Regions from separate parts of the Homo sapiens genome. Here region 1 is linked to region 2. The links come from fine-mapping of genetic effects on gene expression. A gene starts in region 2. The other region holds a variant in brackets. All regions are shown on one strand. Distances are from middle to middle. Region 1 overlaps RNF2 (ring finger protein 2). Region 2 holds the start of RNF2 (ring finger protein 2).

Region 1 (5,000 bases), 52 kb before region 2:
TTTTCAAATCTTAGGAATAACTACTTGTCACTTAACACTGTTACGGTTTTTTACATTATTTATTAGATTCTACCCCACCACTTGCCACTCAGTTAGTTGGTCAGTGTGCTCCCAGTTTCAACAGTCTATTATTTTAAATACTCACAGTGAACTGGCCACTGGCTGTTGCTATATAAATGGTATACTGCTTCTCACTGGCTGTATCAAGGTTCATCTGGTTTGATTCACCTTTGCTTCGAAGTTCTTCTAAAGCTAACCTCACAGCCAGATACTTGGATAAGTGATCAACAGTGGCGTTACCAGAAGTCTTTATGTATCTAGAAGAATAAATCATTAAAAATTTCATTTCTAGAATATGCCAATGAGAAAAATGTACTTAAATTATGGAACTAATACATTTCTTAAAAACTAAGTAAAATGGCAATGTCTCAATTATTGACAAAATAATATCAGAAATTTACTGCTCTACAATCTAAATTTCTTATTGATAGGTACAGAAGAGGGGAAAGTAAATACTCAATATCTTACTGTCAGGTCACAAAAGCTTTACCTACCTTACCTTCTATAAAATGAGATACACAGTGACAAAAATCAAACAGAAATACACAAAGTACTAAGGGGAAAAAAAGGAACATACCCCCCAAACCCTAATGACCAGAATCTGCTGGCTATAGCAGCAACAGAAACAGAATAGAAGCAAATTTCTTATTGTCTAAGAATTAAAATGTCTTTTAAGACTAACCATAGAAATGTTCATTTGGGCCGGGTGTGGTGGCTCACGCCTGTAATCCCAACATTTTGGGAGGCTGAGGCAGGTGGATCACTTGAGGTCAGGAGTTCGAGACCAGCCTGGCCAACATGGTGAAACCCCATTTCTACTAAAAATACAAAAATTAGCCAGGTGTTGTGGTGAGTGTAATCCCAGCTACTTGGGAGGCTGAGGCAGGAGAATCGCTTGAACTCGGGAGGCAAAGGTTGCAGTCAGCCAAGATTGTGCCACTGTACTCCAGCCTGGGAGACAGAGCAAGACTCCCATCTCAAAAAAAAAAAAAAAAAGAGGCCGGGCACAGTGGCTTGGGCCTATAATCCCAGCACTTTGGGAGGCCAAGGCAGGCGGATCACGAGGTCAAGAGATCGAGACCATCCTGGCCAACATGGTGAAACCCTGTCCCTACTAAAAATACAAAAATTAGCTGGGCTTGGTGGCATGAGCCTGTAGTCCCAGCTACTCGGGAGGCTGAGGCAGGAGAATCGCTTGAACCCAGGAGGCGGAGGCTGCAGTGAGCCGAGATCGCGCCACTGCACTCCAGCCTGGCGACAGAGCAAGGCTCCATCTCAAAAAAAAAAAAAGTTAATTTGAGGATTTTTAAAACATAATATATCATTAAATCCCTCATTCAATAAATATTTGATGCTTATCTGTACTCAACAGCAAGCAGTGTGCTGGAGATACAGTGGTAACGTAGCCATTCTTGCCAGCATGAGTTTTAGAGCCTATTGGTACTCTAGTATCATTGCTGAGAAATTTGAATAGGCCCCTTTACCTTCTCTACCAAGGAGAGTCATTCCTTTCAGATGTGCAATTTTGGGTGGAAAGCACATGAGGGAGGAAGGAAGAAAACAACAATCTAGGCAGCTAGTAACTGAACCCCTGCAATCAATGGGATGACAAATATTGCTCCTACTTCTTATACAAGACTGCCTTTTACCTCCAAATTAAACATTCTGAATTTAGATAATCTGAAACTAATCCACACACTTACCTCGTCTGTGCACTGTCATCTTTTTCCATAAGTGTGGGATGAGGCCTGAATACTAATTCAATTTCACTAGCACCATCCATTACTGGATCAATTGCCATTGCTGCATTGTTATTATCAAGCTCTAGCCCAGAATCATCAGATGTTTTGGTCCGTTTGTTACTAGGGCCTGCTTCCTGATTGCTATGTGTGGATGCATTACTGCAGTGTGAACTGTCACCATTATCTTCTGCTCCACTACCATTTTCAATCTGTTGTTTCTTGCCTCGCTGCAGTCTAGTCAAGGGGGAAAAAAGGATGCATAAAATTTACTTTTAGGCCTTTAAAGCAACAAATCTGAAGCATGTTTGCTACTGAACTTTAGAATTCCAAAAAATACTGGTAACTGAATTTACTCTGAGTTGGATGATATTGTTTCCCACATGTTCCTGAAAGGTCTAAAAAATCTCTCTTGCTCACAGGCAAACATTTAAATAATTTAACGAATGTTTCTATTCACTTAATAATTTTACTGGCCAGGCACGGTGGTTCACACCTGTAAACCCAACACATTGAGAGGCCAAGATGGGAGGAGCTTGAGGCCAGGAATTTGAGACCAGCTTGGGCAACAAAGTGAGACCCTGTCTCTACCAACAACAAAAAATT[T/C]TAATTAGCTGGGCGTGGTGGTGCACCTATCATCTCAGCTACTCAGGAGGCTGAGACAGGAGGATGGCTTGAGCCCAGGAGTTGAAGGGCGCAGTAAACTAGGATGGCTCCACTGTACTCTGGCCTGGGCCAGAGTAAGACGCTATCTCTTAAAAATAATTTTCTTTATTAAACAAAAGACTATAAGAATTAATTGACAAATCTTTATATTCTGATCATTTTCTCTCATGGGGTTACAGGTCTGAAGAAAGGCATGATTCAAATATGAAAATGTAAAAGTTCTTAGGGAAGATATTTATGCCTCTTTAAAGAAATTCTTAAGGAAACAAAAGTTAAGAAGAATAGTAAGTACTTCCTCCCTGCTGACCTTCCGCCAAGTCAGCTAAGGCGATACAAAATGACTGAGGAAAATGCGATGGTATCTAAATAACCAACGTGGACACAGAAGCTGCTCTCTAACAAGCTCAGATACTAAAGCTAATTACCGGGCAAGGCACTTTATACATACAATCTTGTTTACTCTTCAAAATAACCTGTCAAGGCAGTTACCATTAATGTCATTTTCTAGTTGAGAAAAGCAAAGAAAACTCAGGTACAAGATTAAATAATTTGCCTCCAGTTATACAGCTAATAAGTGCCAGAACTAGAGCTAGGATGTGAACCAGACCACATTCTTCCTACCACACTGCCTGTCTCCCTACCTGTATAGATAAGAAAAAAGGAATATATAATGAAAAAGAAATATGAAAGAATGCCTTGCACTTGTAAGAATATTGTCATTATGTTTACTGCCAGAACAAAGAAATAACAGTCCAATGGTTAGGAAAGATGCTCAAGAACTCATGCTTTAAAAAAAAAAAAAAAAAAATCCTGCTTATAAAATTCATAGATCATTGCAAAACCAAGAGAGTATGACTAGTATGTTAAATAACAAACTATGATTCAAAAATACATAAGCACACACAATGGATTATTCAGTCCTAAAAAGGAAGGAAATCCTGCCACATACAACATGAATAGACATGCTGAGGTCATTTAAGTAATATAAACCAGGCACAAAAGTACAAATACGTAACTTGGTGGCCTACAGTCAAGTAAAAAGAGAAATAAATAACAGTAAATAACAACAACAAAAAAAAAACCCCAAAAGTACAAATACAGCACGATTTCACTTATGTGAGGTATCTAAAGAAGTCAAATTCATAAAACAAAGTAGAATGACAGTTACCGGGAACTGGGGGGAGGGAGAAATGAGGAGTTAGTGCTTAATGGATACAGGGTTTCAATTTTATAAGATGAAAAGAGTTCTGTAGATTGGCTGCACAACATTGTGAGTGTTCAGCTTTGAGGAGCCAATCGTTTAAAAGAAAAAAAAGAATGTACTTAACACTACTGAACTCTACACTTACAAATGGTTAAGATGGAAAATTCTGTTATATGTCTTTTACCACAATTTTTGAAAAAAAGGTATGAACGGGCTAAAATAATGGGACAAAAAATTGATAGCACAACATAAAGACTAAAATATATTCTAAAATCCACAACTAAAGCAAATGAAAAGTTATTTGACCATAAATTACAGTGACCTAACAGGTTTATTAAGACTCAATATATTTATTTTTATCCCACACCTTTCCAAAAAAGGATTGATGTGACAGAGCTATATTAATGTAACTGCAGGCAGCGTTTAAAGAATATGTTCATATAAAGAACATTAAGTCTATTATATCCTACATTTATCAAATCACGTCTATAATACTACATACTGTCCTGATGGTAGCATTTTAAGAATGACACCAATCTTGAGTGTCATATGAGGAACAAAAAAGAAATGAGGAATGTGAATATTAAGCCTTTAGAGGGACATATACGAACATATACCTACATAAAAATATTTGTAAACACAGAAGTAGAATCTGAAATGTATGTAGAAGTCAACATAAGTATTTCAACATAAGACAAACCCAGACTGCTGCACACAAGAGACTAATTTTAATTCAATATAAAGGAAGAACTTAAAAATTCACACATAGATAAATATTTACTGAGCAGCTACTACTTTAAGCCAAGCATGGTTCTAAATAATGGTGTTAATAAGAATCAATGATACTGACATAGTCTCTTCCCTCTTAGGGGTCATAATTCTAGTGTAGCAGGTAACACATGAGAGAGTGATACGTGCTATGGGAAAAAAATGAGGCAGGGAGGGTAAGGAATTACAGAGTCCTAGAATGGAAGATGAGAACTTAAGCAGATACCTGCTAAGAAAGTGAGGTAGTGTGCCATGTGGATTATTTGGAAGAAGGTTCCTGAAATAGAGTAGTGTAAGTACAAAGGCTCTGAGGCAGAAGCATGCTTGGTGAGTCTGAAGAACAGTAAGGAAGCTGTAATAAAGTTGCCAACAAAAGAAAGGAGTGCCTATCATACAGCCCCACCACTAGAAATGTACAAGCAAAACCAAAAGAATATTTACAAGGAGAGTCTTGCTTTTAGTAAAAGGCTAAACTGAACAACCATTAAAGTCCTTCCAACGCTTAGGAATGTAAAATTCTTCTAAAAATAAATACATTTAACATTTAGTACATTATACTTTGG
Region 2 (5,528 bases):
TCAGCTGTCTAAAAACCGTAAAGCAAAGGAGAATTAAGAACATGGCCAATTCTACCGGAGTTGCTCCACACAACATAAAACTGGATAATGGGTCACACCTACGCTCTTAGCACCTATAGTCAGGGACTCATCACCTAGCTCCTGCCTGGCAACACACTAACACTAGCTTCTACTTAAATGCCAAGAGTCCCATGACCACAGTCAAAATATTTATGTAAGACCAATCAAACTGCGCTTCCCCCAAGAAATACCAGAAGACCCAGTAGACACATTAGGTAGAAAGGGTAGAAGACCAGTAGGCAAACAGTCAGGATATCTGGACCCTTAAGGAATGGACTGTGTAAATGCTATTATACCTTTGTACCCCAAATTATATGGGCACCTACTCAGTATTAAATGCAAATAAACACTAAGTTACTATGACAGCTTAGATGTCAAATAAATGAATCAATCGAGAAATTAACCATTGTCTGATGACAATGTCTTCTACAGTGTGTGCAATAACACGAATTAAAAACCAATTGTAGATGTGTACGTGCGCAGAGTACATAATCTCTTATTTTTCTTTTAAAAGCTGCAAACTGTGATGGATTTTTAGTTTATCCAGAATTTAATGAGTCATTTCAAAATTATGAAGCGCTTTAAGTCATACTAGAAACACTGCCATAATTTTAATAAAGTGCGTTTTAATATTAACTCATTTCTCTTGCTGGAAGAAATTATGCTTCTTTGCTAATGTATAGAAATGAAACTGTCACTGAAACATCTGGTTATATATTATTCATTAGGCATATATATCACCTTTACTCCAAAGTCTGCATAATATAAACACAAATCATGAATAAATCAGATTAGAGACACAGACGTGACACCACAAACTGTAGGTCACTAATAAAATTCCAAACATGTTTGCTGACCTGGTCTATATTTCTATCCATTCAAACCTGGGAGCTTCACACAGGCAGAGAAAAACTCCAAATTCCCAGTATTTTGAAAGTCTGCATGGTCTACATTATGTTAGTGATTGTAACTGGAAATTTTTCTATGCAACACACTTTAGGACAACTAGCTTATTTTTCAAATACTCAAACGGATTGGCCTGACTCGGGCAATTTTTCTTCGTAAATCTGCCTCTACTATAATTAACCTCAAATGTGGATGCCACAAGGATACCTGAGGAAAATAACTACAATCCTTACAAAAAGTGAGGGACCATATTTGCTGTGCTACCCCTAGAAAAAGGAGTCACCTATAACTACCTATTATTTTGCTAAAAAGTAGTTTAAGAGTACAATCAAGATTTTTAAAGATACTTGTTGATTGTGAAAAGTAGAAATTTCAGGGGAAAAAGGGAATAACCAAGAGTCATATTGCTGCTATTTAAATACTTTATAAATCCAAGGATCAAATTTCACTATAAGAAGCAAACTCTCACACCCACCTCAGTTATTAGAATATTCAACAACTGCACTTAATACAAAACAGATAGATTAGCTACCAATTAGACTAAGTATTCCAGCTGATCATCTTGGAATTACCAAAAGTAGATTATGTAATGCAAATCGCTCGTACATTCGTTTTAAACATATCCTCGGTTTAGAACACTGAAACCATGCCTTAATTTTTTTAATTGAAAAACAGCGTATTACTAAAATACTGAGTGCATATGTATATCCTTTTCACGGCACTTCAAAGAAACCTGACATCTTCAAATCATTTTACAATGTAAAGTTACATTCTCTAAAACTTCCGACAGCCTCGAAAAAGATACCCAAAGGGGCTTCAAATAGATGAGTCTATAATTGATCTTAGCGGGCAAATAACTGGAATGAACCTCAAAGTTTGAGATCAATTTTTACTAACACCATCTCTGAAAGCAAGAAGGAGACTTCTGTAGAAGGTAAACGATTCTGACCAGCAGGACGTGGGCTCCCGGCAAAAGTGGGTACTAGCATCTCAGCGTAAACGACACGGTTCAAAACGCGAATCTTCCCGCAGAAACTAACCAAGACACCCCCTCCCCCCACGACTCCTCCTGGGTAAGCTCACGGTTTTAGAAAGCAGCAACAGATACTCCAGAGCAGGAGGCGGCACTCCAGGAATGTGTGAAGCTGAAGGGGTCTCCCCGAGGAACCCCGAGGTCGAGGAGCTCCTCTACACTGGAACCCCGACTCCGACCCCCCAGAAGGAAGGAGCGATATCTGCACAAAGTGCCCCCTACCCCACCCCCACGATGCAGACACACATCCCTAGCTGCGAGGCGAAAGCCCAGAGAAAAAACTCGCATTCCACTCCGTCCGCCTCCGGAGTAGGGCTGCAGAGAGGCTGGGGCCCCCGCCCCCGGAGGCGAGGGGACCGCGCCGCAGCGCCGGCCTCCGCGCAGAGGAAAGGGCAGCGAAAGGCTCGCGGCGAAGGAAGGAATCCCGGCGCTTCGCTGACTGGGTCCTCCGCAAACCAGCTCCCTTCCCTCCCACGACCCTCGAAGACACGGGAACAATGAGAACCCGCTTCACCCGCCGTCTCCGCCGCGAGAGCGGCCGGGGGCGGCGGCGGCGCCATGTCCCTTCACACCCCCGCGGACACACACCCCCCCCACACTCCGGGGCCCCCGTCAGTCGCCTGCAACGCTGCCGAGTAGACGCGTGTCCCGGCCCGCTGCTTCCGCGTCCTTCGCCTCCCCGCCCGCCCCACTCACCGGCTCCTGCCCCAGCCCAGGGCTCCGCTGGCCGCGGCCGGAGCAAGACTCTGGTATCAGCTGCCGCGGACGCCGGCGCCGCCGCACAATATGGCGAGCCTCAGCTTCCGCAATGGAGCTCGGGAAATACAACAGGGGCCGCTCAATATTCATGAGAGACTGAGGGGAAGCCGGCTCGGCCGGCGCTGCGGGGAGGGCGGGAAGGAGCGAGCGAGCGAGGGGCGGAGGCGCGGGACGAGGACGTGCACGGCGCGGGGAGGCCCGCGGCGCGAGGGAGGGTGCGCCGCCGCGTGTTGGCCTGGAGAACCCGCGCCACCGCCCCGCCCTGGGCTGGCCGGCCACGCCCCCCCGGCGCCCACCGCGGTCCGACGTAGCCCCCGGGCAACGCCCGGATGACGGCGCAGCCACCTCGTGCTCAACCTTCTGCTTGGGTTCTTCTGCCCTGGCTTCGGCCCACCCTTTACACCTTCCTGGCCGGCTTCTGGGGTTTGGGCTCAGACTTCTTTCTCATGAGTTCGTCCTCTTAAACCTGTCCCACCCGGCGGAAATCCTCATCAGGCTTTGGTTTGCAGAACTTCACATGAACTTCGGCACCCTTCCGCTCTCGTACAACAAACATACACTTTTCATCCTTGCAGGATAAAACTGCAAGTGTAATTGCTCCTGGGAAAATGACCTTCCACTCTAAACTTAGCTTAACATTCTGATTGTGGTCATCAGCTCTTACTATTTACCTTGCTGCTGCTTTATTCCTACCTCCTTGGCCCCTTCCAGTGTTACCTTCTGAACTTGAGGATTTACGAAGTAATAGATTAATAGATGTAATCATTACCTAAAACACAGCCAGTTAGTCTCCAGTAAATTATCCGACATTTAATGCATATAAATTATGAGCTGAAGAAGTAACGAAGAATTGAAAGTTCCCTGATCTCTATATGTACTATTGTTGAGATGTCATGTTCTCTTGAGAAGATAACCAGCAATACCAGACCGTAAATCTGAAGGCATAGAGGCATAAACCAATGGACTGCAGTGGGAATTGGGCAAACTAGGTTCATAGCCTCCAATGTGTGTCTATGTGACTTACGTAGATTGCGTAGCTCCTCTGCACTTCATTTTCTTCGTCTGCGAGATGAGAGAATTGTATTGAATCCTAGGTCCTTTCCAGTTCTTTAACGCTCTGAAACTCTCTATAAGCAATTCCAAATAAATGACATGAATTTACATAGGAATTTGGAAAAGAAAAATATCAATTCCAGCTGGTGTGTTTGGGGATGATTTCCTGAGGAGCCGGGATTTAAGATGGCCTTTGACGCCTTGGATGGGTGGAAAGAAAAAGGACAGGTGTTAAATACAGCACATTATATATGCTACCTAACAATCCATCAAAGAAAACAAGCATTATTCTTTTTCAGTGGCTTGAAAGCTTTTGCCTACTATCTATAACTTTAAATAACAAGTGACAGTTATCTGACTCTACAAGCCCTTCAAGGTTAAACTCTTCCTCCAATGTGGGGGGAGAAAAAAAGGCTGGGTGTGGTAGCTCACGCCTGTAATCTCAGCACTTTGGGAGCCCAAGGCCACCGGATCACTTGAGATCAGGAGTTCGAGATCAGCCTGGCCAATATGGTGAAACTGTCTTTACTAAAAATACAAAAAAAAGTTAGCCAGGTGTCGTGGCACGCGCCTGCAGTCCCAGCTACTCGGGAGGCTGAGGCAGGAGAATCGCTTGAACCTGGGAAGCAGAGGTTGCAGTGAGCCGAGATCGCGCCATGACACTCCAGCCTGGGTGTCTCGGCGAGACTGCGTCTCAAAACAAAACAAAACAACAACAACAACAAAATCAAAATAATCAGGGAAGCTCTGCTTCTCCCTTCTTGTGAAAGTCCACTTTCTAGAAACAGTGCAGTTGCAGAAGCATCTCCCTTCTTCCTTCATGACGAGTGCATGTGTAGTTCAATTAAAGGAAGACAGGTGTTCATAATTTAGAACTTTTGCTCTAATTAAAATGCCTTTGAAAATCATGATGTGTGGTTAGATTAAGCAATTCAATTGATGTTGAGAAAAGTGATGATTTGTAGAAAGCGCAGGAACTTTATGGATGAAAGTTAAATATAGTGCTTAAAAAAGACTCACAGGAGAATTAGTGGAAAAACGGAAAACTTATGGGATATCTGGATTAAATGTGATTAAAAAGCTAGACCTCAGGCTAACATCCTTAATATGAAAAACACTACTGACAAATTAATGGAACTCATTTTATCTATTTTATCTCTTACTCAGAAACTTGGCACTGGATCTTCTCTGACTATATTAATCAGGAAAGGTTATGTTATGGTATAGTAACAAACATCTCCAAAATCTACATGCCTTAACACAACAAAAGTTATTGTTTGGTTATGCTTCATGCTTCATGTGGATCCAACTCACTCTGTTCTGGTCACTCCAGGAACCAGATTGATAGAGACACCACCATCTTGTAGCTGTACCACCCTGGAACACAGAAACTTATTCTCTGCAGCAGAGGAAGAAAATGGCTAAAGAATCCCCGTGAATTTTTCGTAGCCTTAGCTTGGAAAAGAGAGCACTGATCACATTTCATTGCCCAGAACTGGTTGTACAGCCCCACACATCTGCAAAGGGACTGAGTCCTTGAACTGAGTTCAGAAAGAGAAGTGGGGACATTGGTGAACAATGCTAACGTCAGCCACCCTGACCTCACCACTAGGTTCCTAGATGCCATGGGAAAATTCTAAGAGGTTTTATTCTGTAACACTGGTTCTCTTGAGTGACCCCAAGAAAGTTATGCGTTCAAAAGTAAACTCTCTTACTT

Evidence for each region. PIP is the estimated chance that this variant, and not a neighbour inherited with it, causes the effect.
Region 1: its variant is the best candidate, but not a certain one, in a credible set for the expression of RNF2 in monocytes after LPS (Quach 2016, PIP 0.68).

The regions. Positions count from the first base shown.
Region 1 is chr1:185,095,108-185,100,107 of GRCh38, reverse strand. RNF2 (ring finger protein 2) reads right to left here. Exons shown (of 7, transcript NM_007212.4): 5 at 1,764-2,036; 6 at 146-317. Among named protein-coding and RNA genes, the nearest start is that of RNF2, 52 kb to the right of the region's middle. The variant T/C (reference allele first, on the strand shown) is at 2,406.
Region 2 is chr1:185,042,817-185,048,344 of GRCh38, reverse strand. RNF2 (ring finger protein 2) reads right to left here and starts at 2,787. Exons shown (of 7, transcript NM_007212.4): 1 at 2,696-2,787. RefSeq lists a silencer at 2,898-3,157.